Linked DNA regions of Homo sapiens. The protein of the gene in region 4 interacts with the protein of the main gene of each other region in a biochemical or structural test. Each region holds a gene or a part of one and is shown on either strand. Other genes may lie near its edges.

What was found. Proteins that work in one complex are often made in the same cells at the same time.
Region 1: the proteins of PTPRZ1 (region 4) and ARHGAP21 interact in a test that uses a peptide from one of them, tested with the Homo sapiens proteins (one large-scale study listed by IntAct).
Region 2: of the proteins of PTPRZ1 (region 4) and FYN, one has a biochemical effect on the other in vitro, tested with the Homo sapiens proteins (one study listed by BioGRID).
Region 3: the proteins of PTPRZ1 (region 4) and PDLIM1 interact in a test that uses a peptide from one of them, tested with the Homo sapiens proteins (one large-scale study listed by IntAct).

Annotation. Positions count from the first base shown.
Region 1 is NC_000010.11:24,720,646-24,726,036, reverse strand, and holds the start of ARHGAP21 (rho GTPase-activating protein 21), read left to right. Parts: upstream 1-2,149; 5' UTR 2,150-2,475; intron 2,476-2,815; exon of another isoform or gene 2,816-2,880; intron 2,881-3,288; exon of another isoform or gene 3,289-3,551; intron 3,552-3,757; 5' UTR 3,758-4,137; coding exon 4,138-4,200; intron 4,201-5,391. UniProt on the Homo sapiens protein: Functions as a GTPase-activating protein (GAP) for RHOA and CDC42. Downstream partner of ARF1 which may control Golgi apparatus structure and function. Also required for CTNNA1 recruitment to adherens junctions.
Region 2 is NC_000006.12:111,695,011-111,699,927, forward strand, and holds part of FYN (tyrosine-protein kinase Fyn), read right to left. Parts: intron 4,661-4,917; coding exon of another isoform or gene 4,505-4,660; intron 1,447-4,504; coding exon 1,267-1,446; intron 1-1,266. UniProt on the Homo sapiens protein: Non-receptor tyrosine-protein kinase that plays a role in many biological processes including regulation of cell growth and survival, cell adhesion, integrin-mediated signaling, cytoskeletal remodeling, cell motility, immune response and axon guidance.
Region 3 is NC_000010.11:95,270,062-95,274,978, forward strand, and holds part of PDLIM1 (PDZ and LIM domain protein 1), read right to left. Parts: intron 1,724-4,917; coding exon 1,572-1,723; intron 1-1,571. UniProt on the Homo sapiens protein: Cytoskeletal protein that may act as an adapter that brings other proteins (like kinases) to the cytoskeleton. Involved in assembly, disassembly and directioning of stress fibers in fibroblasts.
Region 4 is NC_000007.14:122,039,656-122,044,572, reverse strand, and holds part of PTPRZ1 (receptor-type tyrosine-protein phosphatase zeta isoform 1 precursor), read right to left. Parts: intron 3,758-4,917; coding exon 3,594-3,757; intron 1,966-3,593; coding exon 1,830-1,965; intron 152-1,829; coding exon 5-151; intron 1-4. UniProt on the Homo sapiens protein: Protein tyrosine phosphatase that negatively regulates oligodendrocyte precursor proliferation in the embryonic spinal cord. Required for normal differentiation of the precursor cells into mature, fully myelinating oligodendrocytes.

The sequences.
Region 1 (5,391 bases), on a different chromosome or scaffold from region 4:
CTATCTCAATATGTTGTGTGTAAAGCTTTTAGAGGAGTACCTAGCAGGAGGTATTGAATTTGATAGCTCTAGTACTTAGACACATAAGTCATAATTTTCCCTAAGTTACGTGGTAAATGATGGAGTTGGATTGTAATCTTGATCCTTACATCTTATTACCTCTTATAGAAATATTGCCTCTCTAGGTTATGTTATTTTTCCATAATTCCTAGAATGTGTTTTCCTTCCTTTTCCTTCTCCTTTCATGGCCCACATTTTACTCTCCTTTATCAAACTGAAAATTTCACAATCAACATTTAAAAAATTTCTAGTGCAAAAATTTTAACCCAAAAGTCCTCAGCTGTTAGGTACGCCGTTCATGCCATGCATGCACATTTGCATGTGCAAGGAGTTGTTTTGTGCTGTAAGTTGTTTTTCCTTTCTGGACATATTCTATAAGCCCACAAGCGGTGAGCTACTTGAACCCTGAATTTCTATTCACTTCTTGTTAATTTACTCAATTGTATCTAGCACTGGATACTGCTACAGCCACTGGGCTATTTAGTAAATTACCATCTGACTGAAATACAGTCCTTGTATTTTATTCTATTTTTCTTTTCTTGATTATTAGCTGACTTGTTTGGTGACAGGCTGTCAAGAACACGCAAATTTCATGGCCATATAAAAATGATCTCGTCAACGTCTTCCCTCGAATTGAAGCGGAGGATTTAGTTGTAGATTTGGTTTGGCACCTTCCACTTTAAGGAAGATGTAAAAACTAAGGCGCAGGTACTCCAGCTGCAGGGAGTGTTTTTTGTCCCCGCTCCCCTGTCCCCCATAAAGAAACAGGACCTCAGGTGGTGGGCGGGCGGGGAAGGAGAAGGGATGTTTCTAAGTCTACAGGGGAGAGTGTAGAAAGAAAGAAGGAAAAGGTAAGAGGACTCCACAGTTTCTAGGTTTTGTTCTTCTTTTTTTCCCTCTGGACAGCGGTGGCAGCTGATCAGACACAATAGCTGGCAGTCCCCGGCCGCAGTGAGGATAAAAATGACCCTCAACAGCACCAGCAGGAGCACCGAGAAGGGGAGGGGAGTGTGTATGGGAGGGGGCGAGGATGAGGGTGACAAGGTGACAAACGCTGCCTCTGACTGCGAGCAACTCCCCCTCCAGCCCCGCGAGGCTCGGAGCCGGGGAGCCACCTCCCCGGAGCGGGGCGGGGTGGGAAGGAGAGGCCGAGGGGGCGGTGGCCTTCACCCGGGGGCGGGGAAGAGGGCGGAGGGAAGCCTGATTTACCAGCCCCTGATTGGTTCGCGTTCTCTCGTCGCGTCTCCCGATTGGGTAATTTGCAGCGGGAGATGTTGTGAGGCACGGCGGGGCGGAGCGAGCTGCCGGGGTCTGTGACAAGGCCCGGGAATTGGGTGGGGAGGGTGGCGGTTGTGCCGCGGCTCCGGAGCCGCTGTGACCTGGAGTGTGGCGGACAGAGAAGCGCAGCCGCCTCTCCACAGTTCCGCTAGCCGCGCCAAATTCGCTCAGCCGCTCTGCAGAATTTATAAAAGGGAAAGAACTGAATGAGCAACGCTTGGCTAACTTCCCCCTTCCCACCACAGGAAGAGATTTTTGCTGTGAGGCGTGAGGGGACACTCCCTTATCTGGAAGTCCCACGTCTCGTCGCAGCTTCATTGCCTTCCCGCTGCAAAAAAGGGGTGGGGGCACAATTTGCCAAGCCCTGTCCCCCAATCTAGGACCTTTGATCCCTGGAGTCTGCAGATGTCGCTGTTATAGGCTTGTCCCCCTCTCCACCCCAGACGTCTACCACCAGGTCTCCTTTCCCGGGAGCAAGCCCATCCCTGGACGCTGCCGTTCAGCGCTTGGGAGACTGCAGGGGCGGGGAGCGTTGTGTGCCTGGTTTTGGGGTGCTGGGGGGCGAGGGCTTGTAGGTCCCGCGACCCACGGGGAGGGGGCAGGCGAGCACCCCGCTCCGGCCTCCGGCTAATCCCCCTTCTCCAGCGTCGGTTCCCCGGTCCCGTGTTATTCAAGACAGAAAATATTCAGCCCCAGAGCCTCCCCTGGGGAGGGGAGGGGAAGGAGGTGGAGTGGGAGGAGGTGGATCCAGGGAGGAAGAAGCGAGAAATCCGCCCCCGGGAAACAGCTCCGCGCGGCCACGGAGCGAGGCGCTTCTGTCACTTGGCGTTCGCGGGCGCCGGAGCTGGGCCCCGGCCCGGCCCGGCGAGGCGAGGGGAGAGTCCGGCGGCCGCCGCCCCGCCCCACGCCCTCCTGCGGCGGCCGAGAGCCCGGGGCCGGCCGGGGCAGGTCGCGGCGGTGCCTGGGAGCGGCCGGCCGGGGGCGGCGGCCTCGGAGCGCGGCGGCGGCGGCGGCGGCGGCGGCGGGCAGCGCGGGATCGTCCGGCTGCGGGGTCCGGCTCACGCCGGGCGGGCGGGCGGGGCGCGCTGTCCCGGAGCCGGCCAGCCCCGTGCGGATCCACTCGTCCCGCTTCCTCTGGTGCGTGTCTGGTTTCTTTTCCGTCTCAGCCGAGAGGGCGCTGCGCTCGCGGGCCGTGGAGTGCCCGGCTTGCCGCGGGCTCTCTCCCTTCCCGCCACAGGCCACCCGGCCGGGCGCTGGCTCGGGGCCGGAGGGAGCCCGCGGCGGGCGCCCGGCGGGGGCGGAGGGGCCGCGCCCGCGTGTGCGGAGCAAGGGCGGGCGGCGGGGCGGAGGGAAGGGCACAAAGGCCGGCGGTGGGCGCTGGGGTCCGGCCGGCCAGCCTTGGAGGAGGGGCGCCTGGGGCCGCTCATGAATATTAACCGAGCCTGCGGCCTAGCGCGTCCCGGCCGGGCCCGGCGCCCGGCCAGCGTCTCCGCTTCAGCTCGCCGCCGCGCTTCGGCCGCCGGGCCCGAGCGGGCGGGAAGGGTAAGGCCCCCGGTTTTGTCTCGCCCCGGGGCTCCTAGCACCTTTGAGAAAGTCCATATTGGGGCCGCTCTCCTCGGGAGCTCGAGGTCCCCGACCCGCCTCAGGAAGGGGCGGGGGAATCGTGGGGAGGTGGGTGGTGGTTTGCTTTTTCTCGTTTTTTCCCCCTAGGTGGCCACAGGGGAAGGGAAGCCGTGTCGAGTGGTAGTTGGGGGAAAAGCCGCGACTTCAGAGTTGCTCGGGTGTAGCTCCAGAATCATGCCCTGGAGCGGGAGCGGCGCCGGCGTCCCACCCGCGGCCGCGCACGCCTCCCCGGCCGTCCCCACCCAGCCCCGCCGCGGGCCAAGGAAAACAGCCGCCTCCTCGGGGACGCCGGCCGGGGCGGAGGGGCGGAGGGGCGGCGCCCGAGTCACCCGGAGACGCCGCCGAGCCCACGCCGGCCCCAGCCAGGCTGGCTTTGTGCTTGCGTTTTTGGGGGGCGGAGGGGAGCGAAGAGGGGGCTTGGAAAGTGTGATCCCATTTCAGCCTCGTGGGGGAGAAAACTTCACCGAAGTGTCCCTGTCTGGGTGATGCAGAAAACAACATGCACAGCCCTCTGCTCTACCCAGGAAAGACATGAATTAAAATGCACTTGAATGGGGAACATTTTTTCTTGAAGGCTGCATAACAGCCAGGTGTGTTTGACGCAACCGCTGGGCAGTTTCGAGATTTCTCTTTTTTAAACACCCCCTCGAATTTATAGGCTTTTTGTTTGTTTACGTTAAAATTTTTTTTTGTTTGTTTTGCTCGGGAGGAAACGCGAACTTGGTGTGGACATGTGGGCAAGACAGTGATAGGCGCCTGGAGAAAGTTCATGACCTTTAACTTCTCGTTTTCCTAGGATCTCTCTAGGAGCTGACACTCGAACCTTCACGACCCATTCGGATTTTTCCAGGACTCAGGAGTGGCACTGGGAAGAAGGGGACCGCTTTCTGCAATTGGCCTCGACACTGGCTGCCAAGAAGACCTGTCGCCTTTGTTTTTAAGTCTCCAGAAATGGAAGAAGAAGGCGAAGTCAGTTGAAGTCACGAGAAATCAGCGAGGCATTTGAAGGCGCTTCCTGAAAACCTTTATTCCCTGGCACGTTGTCTGTTTCAACAGCCCTGCCCCTCCTCGGAGCCTGCTTGTGGAATTCTTCCCCTTCGGGTGTGTGGTGGCATTCCCCGCCACGTCCAATGTGGACTCCAAAGGATTTGTCCCTTCTTTGTCATTTGAAATGAAATGATGGCCACGCGTCGGACTGGTCTGTCTGAGGGAGATGGTGACAAGCTCAAGGCCTGCGAGGTAAGCGCGGAGCCAGCGTTCCTGGCCGGCAGGGCGGTGGCCTGTGTCTTGAGCGTCCTGCAAGTTGGGGGTTACCGGCCACGGGGCCTCACTAGGGGCTTCCCGGGGCTTTGAGCCTGTTGGCGGGAGCGCCCCAGCTTAACCAGTAGCGAGGAGAAGCCTGGCCCACGTCTGTTTCCAGGGACTCCCGTGTTTCTTTTGCAAGAACATGTCCCGCAGTTTGGAATGTCCTCATCTTGGTCACCCCTTCTCAGAGCCAGGAATTCTCCCGTCTCTGTGGCTGTGGATGCTACAAGCCTGAGAATGGGCACCTCAGTATCCGTTTTCCTTCAGTCCCCTTCCGAGATATTTGGAGTTGAGCTGGTTGGGGGTGGCTTTCAGCATTTGTGTCTGCTCCAAGGTGCAGAGAGGGCAGCTAGTATGCTTGTTGCACCTGGAACTTAGTCTTTCTTTGGTACTGACGAGGGGAGTCTGGCTGCTGTTGCTGCAGATCTCTGCTTTAGGTAGAAAAAGAAGTGTTTTTCCGTGAATAGTTTAAGCACAGCCTTGGAAAACGACCTTACAGAGTCGTAATTCCAACTCCCGGAAAAATCTCCTGCCTTTACTGTTCTCTTATTTATACCCTCCCTTTCACTACTCTGAAGTTCTGTGAGCTGCTCTGGGGTGTCAGGTGGGTTGCGTTGCTGGTTAGGGTAGCATCTAGCATCTAACATCTTCCCAAGGGCCCAGAGATTTTACTCCAGACTTCCTGAAAATTTTTGAGCAGGCAGGACAGAAATCATAGAAAATACATTGATTTATGACACGCATATACTCTGTTGCCTCTCACCTTTTTTTTTTTTCCTCGTGTTTGGAGATTGAAGTATTCGGAATTTACTTCTATTATGAATATACTATGTTTATCATTGGCGGTTCCTGTAATTTGTTCTTTAAATAGACTGAATATTGTTATCCTTTAAATTTTACTTTTGAGATGCCTATGTTTTCATTGAAGGGTTGAGGATTACTTTAGACAATAACATACCCAAATGAACCCTCATTCACTGTCTCACTTTCTTTTGCACCGGATGTTAAATTTTAACTTCATAGTCCTTGAAACAAGGGCTGGCTCTAAGTGTGTGAGTTTTGGCATTTTAATAAAAATGAATCAGAAGTTAAATTTTGGTTCATAAAGCAAGCGGAGAAACTTGC
Region 2 (4,917 bases), on a different chromosome or scaffold from region 4:
CTGCACCTCTTCAATCCCATTCCCCAATCACCCCTGCACAAAGAATTGATGTGGGGAAAATACAGCCCAGCTGAGTGGTCCAAAACTGTGGTCCTGGGACCAGCAGCTACAATAACACAAGGGAACTTGTTAGATATGCAAATTCTCAGGTCCCATCCCAGATCGAGTAAATCAGAAACTTTGAAGGTTGGGTCCAGAAACTTGGGTTTTAAGAAGGCCTACAGGTGATTCTAATAATACAAGGTAAAGTTTGAGACTCACTAGCTTAGCTTATTTACAGATTTTGAATCAAGAAAAGACAATCTGAAGAATATGGGTGGGGCAGATGGTTCCCCTTAATTAGATCACAGCCAGCCAAGCCTTAAATCAGACATCTGAAATGAAACATTGGAAGCTTCAGAGCCACTATTATAACACAGCCTAAGAAGGCTTAGAACTAACACCAAAGCAGGGATAATCATTTGCAGAAGCTGGAGGCTTATGATGGTCATCAGTGATATTTTATGCTTTAATCACAAAGTTATTTACAAAATAACCCTGGATACAAAGGACAAACCGTTTGCCAGAAAAAAAAATTCCCATTAAATTTTAAAAGAAAGTACATGGAAAAGAAAAATTACACTGGTATCCTCTGATAAACAATGTATTGCCTTTTAAGGCTGTTTCTTGTTTGGTTCATCTATTTTTCCAAAACAAAATGATCTCTGGCCTTATCCCTAACAATGCTGGTTTGATTAGGAAGACAGAGGGGTTGTAGGGGAGAGAATGTGAGAATAAATGTGGTCTCTGAAAGCATGTAATTTCATCGCCTGACGTTTAAGAAGAGAGCTGGAAATAAAAAAGATGTTGAAATGATGGAGACTAAACTTAGCTTAGAGACCAGTGTCTGATATTAATTGTTTAGCCCTGCAAAAAGGAAATGTAACAAAAGCTACTACATTCAAAATAACAGCAAACTATCATAACCCTCCGTACCACCCTGATATTAAAAATGAATGTTTTAATTATGGAGAGGAGCTTGAATTTCTGACACACATAACATGTAAAAAGTATTTGGCATTTCATAAGGATTTGGGGTGGGGTAAACGCAAGGTTAGTCTGTTTTAAAAAATGTTTTCATTAACGAGCACATAACTGGTGGTTCCTAATGGGAATACTTGACCCAGGCAGAAACTAGAAAAGTAGCAAGTAGGAAACTTCCATTTCTCTCCCCTAAACAACCCCTTAAGGCACTGTGAGCTGGAGACAGGAGAGGTGTTGCCCAACCTTTGTTCATATACTCGGTGACGATGTAGATGGGCTCCTCAGACACCACTGCATAGAGCTGGACCAGCTTGTCGTGCTTCAGCTTCTTCATGATCTGCGCTTCCTCAAGGAATGATTCGGGGGACATTGTGCCTGGTTTAAGAGTCTTTATGGCTACTTTTGTGTTTCCATTCCAGGTACCTACAAACATCCCAGAATATGAAGTCAAACCAAAGATCTTCTTTTGATGGAAAAAGGTTTTGACCACCAGCTATTTGCATAAGATTAGATTTTAAATTTAAAACACTTAATACAGTTTTTGTTGAACAAAGACATTCAATTGCAAGGACTCTGTCAAGTATTTTAACAGAAAAAATGAGTTTATTTGTGGTTATGGCTAAGATGGCTATATTAAGATTTATAACTCATTAAAATTTTTTTAAATTTTGATATATTACCACTCTCTCTTTTTTTGGCTCAGTCATATGATTACACATTTATACCAAAAGCTCTGCACCATACAGTGATGAAAGTCCAGGGGTTGGAACAGGCCTGGCCATCTAATAGCTGTCCCTTAGGGAGTACAGTGTGCATGGAAGAAATTAGATTATTTAAGTTTATGGGGTGTGCCATTTAAAAATATGGCACCACATGAGGATGTCTGGAAATTACCTCTAGACTTTCAATGTCTGCAATGGACAAGTTACTTGACTGAGTCCTTGCACAGGTGTGCCAAGCATGCTGATAAGCACTGGCAAGGAGCTCACAGTCTGCTTGCCAATACTTCAACAAGGTAAGGCAAATTTCCTCAGCTTTACTGATGGCTAGCCACAAGAACAATGGCTTCTGTCAGGTAGGTAGACAGGGGAAATTAAACAGCAGCTGAGAGGGAACAGAAATATTTAAATTTAGCATGTTAAAAAAAAATCTAGCAAATCTGAAGGCAAGGCCTGGATTATGATTGTCCTCAGTTACCTCATCTGTAAAATATAGGAATGGAACTGGATTATCTTTTGGGTCTCTTTCAGCCCCAGCATTCAAAAAACAAAACCATACCTAGGTTCTTTGTGTATTCCATTATTAGACCTATGATGCTTAAGAATAACTTTATAAAGGGGAAGAAATCTGCTAATTTAGATTATTTTCTATTTGAAAAAGAAGACTGGTTTAAATTAAGATTTTTATATTTAATATAACTGACTTTGGAATTTAAGGATTCTGTAAATTGGAGTTCTTATTATCCTGTTAAAGACATGGTTCATACAATTACAACATGCAACCTACAAAATATAAATTATGAAAAAACAAGTGGCTTAAAGAAAAGTTCATTTAAACTTCATAAAATATCTGCCCACTAAGCATTCATGGGAAATTTGACAATTTATAAGTGATCTTTGCTATTTAAGAGTCAGCACCCAAAATTCTAAATACATTAAGATCTTCCTCTGTAATACAAACTTCGTCAATTACACAGACATCCATCCCAATTCTGATGGGCATGTTGTCTTGTGTTTATTGGAAAACAAAATGTGAACAGTATATGTAATGATTTAAAGTTGATATTTGTAAAATTTGAAAATAAATTTTCTAATAGGGTCCAATTCTCTGTGATTGTGTGAGTAATTTGACTAAAATCCTCTATTATTAGAGGGTGAATGAGGAAGAAGGAGGTCATATATTTTACGATACTTGAGATTAAGTCCAGAGAGAGATGGACACAATAATGTGGATTTATTAAACTAGCTAACTCATACATATATATGTGTATGTCTGTCTACTACCTATTTATCCACCTAACATACCTACATACATCTTTGTAGTACTTATCATTTGCTGGGCTATGTTTTAAGTGCTTTAACTGTATTAACTCTTTTTTTTTCTTTTCTTGAGACGGAGTTTCGCTTTTGTTGCCCAGGCTGGAGTGCAATGGTGCAATGGTGCGATCTCCGCTCACCGCAACCTCCACCTCCCAGGTTCAAGTGATTCTCCTGCCTCAGCCTCCTGAGTAGCTGGGATTACAGGCATGCACCACCATGCCCGGCTAATTTTGTATTTTTAGTAGAGGCAGGGTTTCTCCATGCTGGTCAGGCTGGTCTCAAACTCCTGACCTCAGGTGATCTGCCTGCCTTGGCCTCCCAAAGTGCTGGGATTACAGGTGTGAGCCACTGTGCCCGGCCACCTGTATTAACTCTTTTAATGCAGACCACACCTAAAGATCTATACCCACACGTAGCAAAGGGTACTGATCGATATTGTTTTTAATGAGTTCTGAGGAAGGAAGATAGAGGATTCCATAAGTATTAATATTGTTTTACTGAAACATGTTTTTGAGTGGGGCCTAAACCCATGAATTGTTTCTAAGCAAAGCTGTAACTGACCCAAAAGGGCTATAAAAGAAATTACAAAGGCCCAGTGCAGCCAGCCTTATCAATGACAATCAAATAAAGAGAAGTATGTATCTCTACTGAATATCTACTATCTGCAAGGGACTTTAAACATATTAACCCATGTAATCCTAAAAATAATCCTTTAAATAAGTATCATTCCAGCCGGGCGTGGTGGCTCACGCCTGTAATCCCAGCACTTTGGGAGGATGAAGCTGGCAGACCACCAGGTCAGGAGATCGAGACCATTCTGGCCAACATGGTGAAACTCCGTCTCTACTAAAAATACAAAAATTAGCTGGGCGTGGTGGCAGGCACCTGTAATCCCAGCTACTCGGGAGGCTGAGGCAGGAGAATCACTCGAACCTGGGAGGTGGAGGTTGCAGTGAGCCAATATCGCGCCATTGCACTCCAGCCTAGTGATAGAGCAAGACTCCGTCTCAACAACAACAAAAAGGTATCATTCCAATTTTACAGATGAAAAAACTGAGGCTTAAAGGAGTTAAATATGCCCCTTGTTCGTGGTTAATTAGCTAGTAAGGATTCAAACCCAGGCCCATTGAGCAAAACGTCCATGGTCTTTCTTATGGCTGCCCATATACAGTATCTTACCTTCCCATTTCTTAGGAAGAGGAAACACCAGATTCATAGTGTACTGGTTTCCTGTTCTGCGGGTGCCTTAATTAACCACATGAAGTAGGACAGATGAGCACAGCAAGGTATCAGCATATTCTGAAAATCTGGATGGCCTGTGCCCGTCTAGTTATCCAGGTTAAGTGTCTTTGTCCCAACGGCTGTGTGTGCATTTTTGTTCAAAACCATCCTTTTAATCGGCTTTGAGATGCAGCCAAAACAAAATGTGCCCTCTGCCTTACCAAGCCACACTTCAGCGAAACACCCCTGACCCAGCTTCTTCTCCAGACACAACGAACGACGTGCAACTTCCCAAGCATCTTTAGCCAATCCAGAAGTTTGTGGGGTACAACTCGATGCAATCACAGTTAAGTTAAAACACAAACCATCAGCTTTCTCTACAGGAAAGGGAATTAATAAAGAAAACACAGTCCTTATAATCCATAATTATGCATGCACTAGGAAAGATGGAAGGTGACTTGCCCGTTAGGATGACACTCAACAAATATTTGCTTTTGGAAATGAAGAGCAAGATATTTTATGGCAGCTGGAACATTCCTTGGACCATTTGCTGGTTTATGAATTGAGAGTCATGTAATAGTACAACTTGAGCCATTTGCCAATTTTGCCCACTTACTATCTTTTTTTTTTTTTT
Region 3 (4,917 bases), on a different chromosome or scaffold from region 4:
TGTCTATGCCAGATATACAAGATGTCCCTTTTCAACATGCCGGTAAACAAATAAAAAATCAATTAATCAATGAATGAATGAATGTCCTGAACTCGGGCTTGAAGGAGAGGATTTGGACAAAGATAGAAATGGAGATGAGAATGAAGGGCAGATGTGCTTTTGAGGGGGTAGTAATAACACAGTGTACCTCTCATGGGGTAGGTCTCTGAAGTGTACAAAATATTTTTATATACTCCCCCACACTCGATCCACCTGCCAGTCCTGTGCCACAAAGCAAAAAAAAAAAAGCAAAAAACATACTTCACAGATGAGAATCTAACCAAAGGCTCCATGACAAAGAGCTGTGGCAGCTAAGGTTAGTGAGATAACAGGTGATCAGAATGAAACATCTGAATTTGATGCAGTAGGAAACAGGGAGCCAACTGAGGGTTGAACCAAATCACTTCCGAAATCCTGCCTTTGCGGGACCCCTTCCAAGGCTAAATGAAAGAAGAATGGAAATTCTACCCTAATTACAGCTCCCAAGGTGCTACCCTCATTCATTCTTTTATCCCCAGCGCTCCTTGCTTGTCATGTACCTAAAGTTACACTCAGTACTCTGCTGCTAATGTGTTCAAGTTTTTCTCTGTTATTGCAATCTCCTGGCATGGTACCCACTGCTCAGCACAATGCAGTAGCAGCAGCATCCTAAGGACATTTTTTTTTTTGAGATGGAGTTTCGCTCTGTCGCCCAGGCTGGAGTGCAGTGACGCCATCTCAGCTCACTGCAAACTCTGCCTCCTGGGTTCAAGTGATTCTCCTGCCTCGGCCTCCCGAGTAGCTGGAACTACAGGTGCACGCTACCACACCTGGCTAATTTTTTAATTTTTAGTGGAGATAGGGTTTCACCATGTTGGCCAGGCTGGTCTCAAACTCCAGACCTCAAGTGATTTGTCTGCCTCGGCCTCCCAAAGTGCTGGGATTACAAAGAGAGCCACCGCACCTGGCCAGGACATTTTACTTACTCAAAATTTTGGTTGAGTTGGATCAAGTGAAAATGCAAGTATCTTACTGAAAGAAGCCCACATCATAAGCACCGTGAAAATCAGAGGGGGGCTGGGCACGGTGGCTCACACCTGTAATCCTAGCACTTTGGGAGGCCAAGGCAGGTGGATCACCTGAGGTCAGGAGTTCGAGGCCAGCCTGGCCAACATGGTGAAACCCCATCTCTACTAAAAATACAAAAATTTGCTGGGTGTGGTGGTGCACATCTGTAATCCCAGCTACTCAGGAGGCTAAGGCAGGAGAGTCACTTGAACCCGGGAGGCAGAGGTTGCAGTGAGCTGAGATTGCACCACTGCACTCCAGCCTGGGCAACAGAGTGAGACTCCGTCTCAAAAAAAAAAAAAAAAAAAATAGAGGGGAAATAAGCAATCTGAAGTTCAAATTCCACAGACCTTTTGGCATGCCTATAGTATATACATGGCACTGAGCTAGGAGGTCTGGGGGATTCTGAGATAGGGAAGGCAGTCCCTGCCCACAAACAGCTTCTAGTCAATCAGAAATGAACAAAACGTTTCCATAGGCTTCACCTGGCTACAGTGAGAGTCAAGTTGTCTGTGCAGCCTTTGATTCTGTTCTGAGCTTCCAAGTGTGTCATATTGCTAGTATTTTCCCCATCAATGGCTGTGATTACATCTCCAATACATAAATTAGCTAGAGCCGCCTTGCTTCCAGGAGTGACCTAGAAAAAAAGGGGAAAGCAGGCTAGTTACTATTTGTCTCCAAACCACTAAGTTACCACCAAGTTAAGTATTCACTGATATGGAGCAAAGCCCTGAAAAAGAAAAGAGGGCTGAAATCATAGCTTAAATAATAACAATCATTTATATTATCATTGACAAAGAGGGCTTTTCTAATATGATCTCATTGTATCCCTATAGCAACCTTATGAGAAAGGAGGACAAATAGCAGTCCCCATTTCCAAGACCAGGATCTGAGGCTTAGAAAGACCTATGACTTACCCAGGATCACCCAACTAGTATATTATTATATTACTGGTCCTCCAACTAGTGTATTACTGAGCCAGGAAACAAACCCCGAACAGATCTGATGTCCTTCCCACTGAACCACGTTTGCTTCCTTAAAATTAGTTAACAATTACATTTAAAAAAACACACACACACACATTTAGAGAACATTATATACTATAATACCCTATTTCTTTAAAAATCTTAATAATGTTATATATACAAAAGAAAGTGGAAACACTGCACACTAAATTGTTCACAGTTATACAGTTTTGCAATGTTTTTTACAATAATATTGAATTACTTTTTAATTTAAAAAATTGTTGACCAGGCATGGTGGCTCATGCCTGTAATCCCAGCACTTTGGGAGGCCAAGGCAGGCGGATCACCTGAGGCCACGAGTTTGAGACCAGCCTGGCCAGCATGGTGAAACCCTGTCTCTAACAAAAATACAAAAAAATTAGCCGGGTGTGATCTCAGCTATTCAGGAGGCTGAGGCAGGAGGATCACTTGAACCCAGAAGGTGGAGGTTGCAGTGAGCCAAGATCATGCCTCTGTACTCCAGCCTGGGCAACAGAGTGAGATTTCGTCTCAAAAAATAATAATAATAATAAAATAAAAATTTAAAAAAAAATTGTTAAAAGCAATCAAGGATATCCTAAAGTATGGTAGTATAGGTTTATACTGGTTTAATCTCCCAAAATGACTAGGGTCATTCCCTATAGACGGCTGGTTTTCTGCAGACTGATGCTTCTAAAACCAGTGGTTCCAAATTGACAGATCATTGATGCTTGGGGGAAGCCAATCAATTACTGCAATAGGTCCTTAAATTCACCTGCCTACAGAGCAATACATGCGGACTCAATACATATCACATCTCCTACACTGATGTACAACCATTTTTCAAGTGAATACAGATGCTATTAGAATGAACAAGATCCAAACTCATTTTGAAATAGTACTCACCTCAGAGTACTATCTCTAACCAAGGTATCTGGTTAGATTTTCTAAACTAAGGTATACTAAAAATATTACTGTCATCATCCCAGGGTAAGTTCACAACTTTTTTTTTCCACATTACAAGACCTTCCTGGATGGGAATTCCAAGTCCGCAGGATCAAGGTGGCAGTAACACCCCCAGGCTCCCAGTGCCCACAGGGCTCTGGCCACCCTTTGGAGAAGGCCCTTGACTCTCGGGATCCAGTTGAGGAAGATCTTATGAACACCTGGGTGTCTCCTTATGGCTGAACCACAGGTAACAGGTTCTTCAAGGCACCAAACCAGGACACACAAGTTGGGTCCTAAACCTCAGTATCTGATGCAGTTTTCAGCAGCTACAGTTTCCGATTAGCCCTCAGCGCAGCTAGTGTGGTGCCGCTATTATGGTGCATTCCCCATCAGCACCCTGACCCCAAAAAATGAGGACAAGTTGATCCTTGAGGTCCCTTCTGGCCCGCACATGCTATGACTTTATCAGGCAAAACTCTCCTGGAATGTGGCAGGATGTGGAAACCAGTACCGAGATCCTGACCTCCTAACCTTCCTTTCTGGCTCTCCCATCATTTGTTTACCAGAGATCTGGGTTTTAGGAAACGAAAGCAGCCTCCTGATTCAAGGTTCAGATCGTCCCCTCATCCAGCCACTGGGACAGGACTTTTTATCCAGGCAAGCACAGGCCGCTCTCATTTCAGTCAACAATGAGAGTTAGCTTCTGAGTCATCCAGTGCATGCAATAAAAAAAAATTCCTCCGTTTTCTGACCTGTTGTCCTGAGAAGACTGATCTGGTGCATCTTCATACACACTTCACTGTTACTAAAGGACAACGCAGGCTCAGTTTTTAAACGGCTCTAAGCATCATTTTATTTGGGATTGGCAAGCGTTCTTGACTGACAAACTCTAACTCCAAGGAGAGCAGCCTGAATCAAGGAGAATAATGCCTTATGGAACTCATTTATCATAGCTAAATCTAGCAGTTTCAAAGAGCAGTCCCCTTAGGATGAAATCCAAAATCTTTAACAAGGCCGCTAAAGCCAGTGCCTCCCTCCCCACCCACATCATGCCTCTTCCCCACTGGGCTCCAGCTACAGGGCCTCAGGACTTTCACACCTGCCTTTACCTCTGCCTGATTAACTTCTCATCTTCCAAGTGTCTGTGTAAACAACCCTTCTTCTCAAAGAGGCCTTCCTTCACCTCCAATCTAAGCTATACCCCCACAGTCATCCTTTTTTTTTTTTTTTTTGAGACGGAGTTTCGCTCTTGTTGACCAGGTTGGTGTACAGTGGCGCAGTCTCGGCTCACTGCAACCTCCACCTCCCGGGTTCAAGCGATTCTCCTGTCTCAGCCTCCTGAGTAGCTGGGATTACAGGCTGCACCACCATGCCCAGCTAATTTTTTGTATTTTTAGAAGAGATGGGGTTTTTTCACCATGTTGGCCAGGCTGGTCTCGAACTCCTGACCTCAGGTGATCCACCCACCTCGGCCTCCCAAAGTGCTGGGATTACAGGCGTGAGCCACCATGCCCAGCTCAGTCATCCTTTTAATACACTTGGTTCTTCTTCACGGCACTGGTCACTTTATGTTTGCAAACCTCCTTGGTGGGTTAGTTTGTTTAATGTTGAAAGGCCTACTCAGCAGTAAGGTGCATGAGGGCAGGATTTTGTCTGCCTTCTGTGCTGTGATATTGCAAAAATTTTAACAGTGAGAAAATTATGACAGTTAAAGATCTGGCCTAACCAATTTCATCTTGCCTTTAACCTCCAAACTGTCTTTGGTCATTCCTGGGCATCAGCAAAGCTAACTTCCGGAGAAATTTTAGTGTATAGTTTAAATGATGGTAGCACTTTCCAAAACTAAACTGTCTGAAAAACTAACGAAAGACCACCAGGTTAGGAGGATGAGAGGGGCCTG
Region 4 (4,917 bases):
TCACCTGGAATTGTTTCTCTAGCTTTGTTTTGCCTGCTGGTCCAGGAATGAGGAGTGCATTAACATAGGCATGAATATGACTGTCCAGCACCTCAGTTTCTTTACTAAGTATGGCCTCAACCAGTGTATCATGAATGAAGACATATTGCTCCTGGCAAAACAATGACAATAAGCAACATTAGTTCAAGTTTTCCTCATATGTATCTACCTACAAACATAGTACCTTCCATTGACAGACAAGGAGAGTTTTACAGAATGGGGGAAGACCCACACAAGATTGCTTACAAAACCTGGAAGGAAGTCAGACAGAGGAAAGGAAGTGGTCACAGAAGAAAGAACCTCTTCTCATTCCTTACCTCTTCATTTATTATGTATTGTTGGCAATACACAATAGGTTAGGAGGCAGGAAGAGTTGGCAAGGCAAAGGAATGTCCTCTCTGCCTATCCTTCAAACTTGACACCTCTATACTTCATGAGAGGGCTTTCTTGACTTCTACACTTCTGGTGGGCCTACCCCTTCTGGCAACGCCAACTCTCCTTTTCGCTTGTCATATACAATTTAACTCAATTTTATATATAGTTAATAGTTCTCTGATATTTCACATACGGGACTCTTTCTTGGTCTTATATGACCAGAATGTTATTTTTTAATGTTTATTTTAAGTTCAGGGGTACATGTGCAGGTTTGTTACACAGGTCAACTTGTGTCATGGGGGTTTGTTGTATAGACTATTTCATCACCCAGGTATTAAGGCTCATACCCATTAGTCCATTAGTTATTTTTCCTGATTCTCTCCCTCCTGCCATCCTCCACCCTCTGAAAGGCCCCAGTGTGTGTTGTTCCCCTCTATGTCTCCATGTGTTCTCATCATTTAGCTCCCACTTATAAGTGAGAACATGTGGTATTTGGTTTTCTGTTCCTGTGTAAGTTTGCTTAGGATAATGGATGGAAGGATGTTTGGTGTGGTTTCGTTTTGAAGCCCACTCAGCCATGTGTTTCTGATTGCTTTCAAGCTGCCATTCATAGGTTTCCATTTAAGTTCATTTTTATTTAGAAACAGTGAAGATAAAATGCAGATTTGCTGACACTGTTCTGTCACTTACGGGTAAACTATATGGGCTTAAAATGGATATAATTTAAGCATAATTCATATTTTTTTAAAAAATGAATTGATTCATCCACTATGTATATGAAGAACTTGAGATTTTTGCTAGCAAGGATGTGTGTGGACCACTCTACTTAGACTTTTGCTGTATCTTCTCTGTGACCAGTGTCATTTTAAAGGATATTCCCTATTTGGGGTCACAAAACAGATAAAATTTATCTGGCTCATTCATGACATAGCTGCAGTTACTGGTGTCATGGGTTGAATGGTGTCCCCCCACAAAGATATATTAAAGCTCTAACCGCCTGATAACTCAGAGTGTGATTTTATTTGCATAAAAGTTTGTTACAGATGTAATCAGTTAAGATGAGATCAACTGGAGGAGGAGGATAACTGGTATGCTTATAAGAGGAGGAAAATTTGGATACAGACACAGACACAGAGGGAAACAGCCAAGTGAAGACTGAGACTGGAATTGTGCTGCCACAAGCCACGCAATGCATGGGGCTACCAGGAGATGAAAGAGGCAAGGAAGAATCTTCTAGAGGCTTCTGGAAGGGCATGGGCCTACAGACATCAGAACTATGAGACAATAAACTTCTGTTGTTCTAACCCACCCAGTTTGTATTACTTTGTTTTGCAGTCCTAGGAGATGAATACACCTACATTTTAGTGACATTTCCATACCTTAGATGAATAAAATCATCTTTTTAAAAATCATACCTCAGTTTGTACCAAATAATTTCTTTGTGAACGGATGTGTTTTAAGAAGCCAAATATGTTGACAGTTCCTTCGTGTTGAATCTGCTGCAACATACTGTCTAGCACAATATATGTGCCTGTTCTTCCAACTCCAGCACTGAAGAGAAGACCAAGAAATAAATATTTCAATGTTAAGCATAAAATAAATTTGAAAAATAGATCACTACTGGTTGTCATGTTGATTAAAATAACTTCCTTCTTCAAGCGAGTGAGCCACACAATACATTTGGCAATTCAATATTGTAAACAGTTTAGTAATTAAGCGTAATGCTTTACACAACAAATTTAGAAGTACCCTTTCTAATGTTTTGTCATGTGTCTAATTGCAAAACAACCTCACTATATCTGTTGGAGATTTTAAAACTTTCAAAAACCATATTTATTATTCATTGTATATTGTACAATGAAAATATTATGTATCAGAGTGTGGCAAATAGACATTTAATCTGACAAAAGTGAAAGCTTTAACTTCACCAAATTCTGAAAAGAAAAAGTCCCTAGGTCTATGTTTCCAGGTAGACATGTTTGTAAAGATTTCTGCGTTAATGGGAAAAAGAATTTGATAAAGCTTTCTGCTGAAAATATCATTTCAGTGAGATTGTGAGGAATAAAGCATGACTTCAGTTATTTCTAAAGGGCCATTATCTATCGACTTCTTCAAAGCCTCTAGCAGAGGGACAGAATTCACGGACAGGGATTCTTTTCAAATGTTCCGACAAGTAGGAAGTGCTAGAGTGGAAAATTAGCACCTGCTCTGCACAATAGCCTGGTCCTTCTCCGTTTGCTAGGAAACAATCCCTGACCTTCAGCACTATTTTTCTTGCATCTTCCTGTTTTCCTCAGTTTATAATCAGGCTAACAGATTAAAAAGCCTCAAGATGGGTCTCTCAAATTTAACTCCTGAGATGGTAATTAGAATGTGTTAGATAAGCTATATATCAAAGGCAAACACTTGATTCTCTAAAAACACACTGCTTTGATAACAATACTTCACATAGAAACAAATTTGATTTTTGTGATCTAAGGCTTGGCACACAGTCAGCACTCAATAAATATTAACTGCTATTATTATTTTAACTGAAAACATTAAATAAGGATTTTCAACATTTTTCCTCTTTCATTGAAACATCATTATTTCTATTTATCAACCTAGTCTTGGAAATTAAAAAATCTTGGCAACAATGAATTGACAATACATTCAATGTAATGTATTAAAACTCAAGAAAATGAAAAAGGGATTCTGGTCCCAAAATGTTTAAAAACAACTTAAATATATTTTGCCAAATTTCTCACAATCTGTGTGCTTTGGCTTCTGTGATACAAGCCTGGCATAATAATTCTAAAACAGAATTTTAACTCCTAGGGACAGGGGTTGTAGCTCAAGCATTTTTATCCCATGGTATTATATGTTGAGGTAAATATTTGTTTAACAACAAAAACATTGTTCCACCTGCCTCAAATAGTTAATAAGCTGAAATGCAGTTGAACAATCAAATAAAATAATCAACATCAAAAAATATGTGGTGCTTAGAAATATTCAGCAATCCAATTCTGAGTCTGGCATGTTCATTTCCTAGTGATCAATACTTATGAAAATGAACATATAATTTCATCACCCTCATTTCAAGAAATCATTCCCATTTGGGCAAAAGCTTTGTTCCATTGATTTCCTTTTTGCAAGTATAAGCAATTCTATGGGTTTAGAGGCACATCTCTGAGACTCACCTGCAGTGGACGACAACAGGCCCCACTGCATGGCGCTTGGCATAGGCTGCCTTTCTCACAAAGGTCAGCACTGGCAGGGAGTACTCTGGTACTCCCATGTCAGGCCACTGCGTGTAGTGATACTGTGTGACCACACGTCCACTGGGTCTTCCTTTCTGGGAGCCCTGGAAAAGTTCAGACAGTTAATAACAGTCAAACACACACACACACACACACACACACACACACACACACACACACACACACACACGGTTCTTCAACAGCAAGTCAGGAATCATAGCTTGATTTGATGTTGAGGGTCCATAATGAATGAAAGAAAGTAGAGTGTCATTTGTGATGGTTAATTTTGTGTCCACTTGGCTATACTATGGTGGCCCATTGTTTGGTCAACACTAATCACACAAAATGTTGCTGTAAAGGTATTTTGTTTAGATGTGATTAACATGTAAGTCAGCAGACTTTGAGTAAAGCAAATCATAGTCCATAATGTGGGTGAGCTCCATTCAACCACTTGAAGGCTGTAAGAACAAAGACTGATAGGATAGGTTACCTGAAGAATAAAGAATTCTTCTCAACAGTGCAACGTAAAGATCCTACCAGAATTTCTAGGCTGCCAGCCTGTCCTACAGGTTTAAGATTTGCTAATCCCCATGATCATGTGAGTCAATTCTTAAAAATGTAAACCTCTCTATCTCTCTATTCTGTTGGTTCTGTTTCTTTGAAGAACCTGAGTAATACGTTATTCTTCGTGTTTCCTTTCTTTTTCTTGTTTCACTCTCCACTCTTTTTAGTTGAATATTGGGATTGTGTCAGGGCCATCCTATGCAGTTGCCACACAAGGTAGGAATTTCTGTTCATGTATCACATTCACTTTAAACATCAGCAACAAAACCAGTCTGGCTCCAAAGCCACAACAGGCATCTAGAGACCTGAAAGAAACCTTTAGGACTGACGGCAGCTGTGATAAGAATTCTTTTTTTTTTTCTTTTCTTTTTTTTTTGACAGAGTCTCACTCTGTTGCCCAGGCTGGAGTGCAGTGGCATGATCTTAGCTCACTGCAACCTCTGCCTCCTGGGTACATGTGATTCCTGTGCTTCAGCCTCCCAAGTGTGCACCACCACACTCAGCAAATTTTTGCATTTTTAGTAGATATGGGGTTTCACCATGTTGGCCAGGCTAGTCTCGACCTCCTGACCTCAAGTAATTCACCCACCTTGGCCTCCCAATGTCCTGGGATTACAGGCATAAGCCATGCACCTGGCCTGGTTACAAGAATTTTTAATGCCTTTAGTTATATGCTTTTTACCCTTTCTTGGTTCTATCG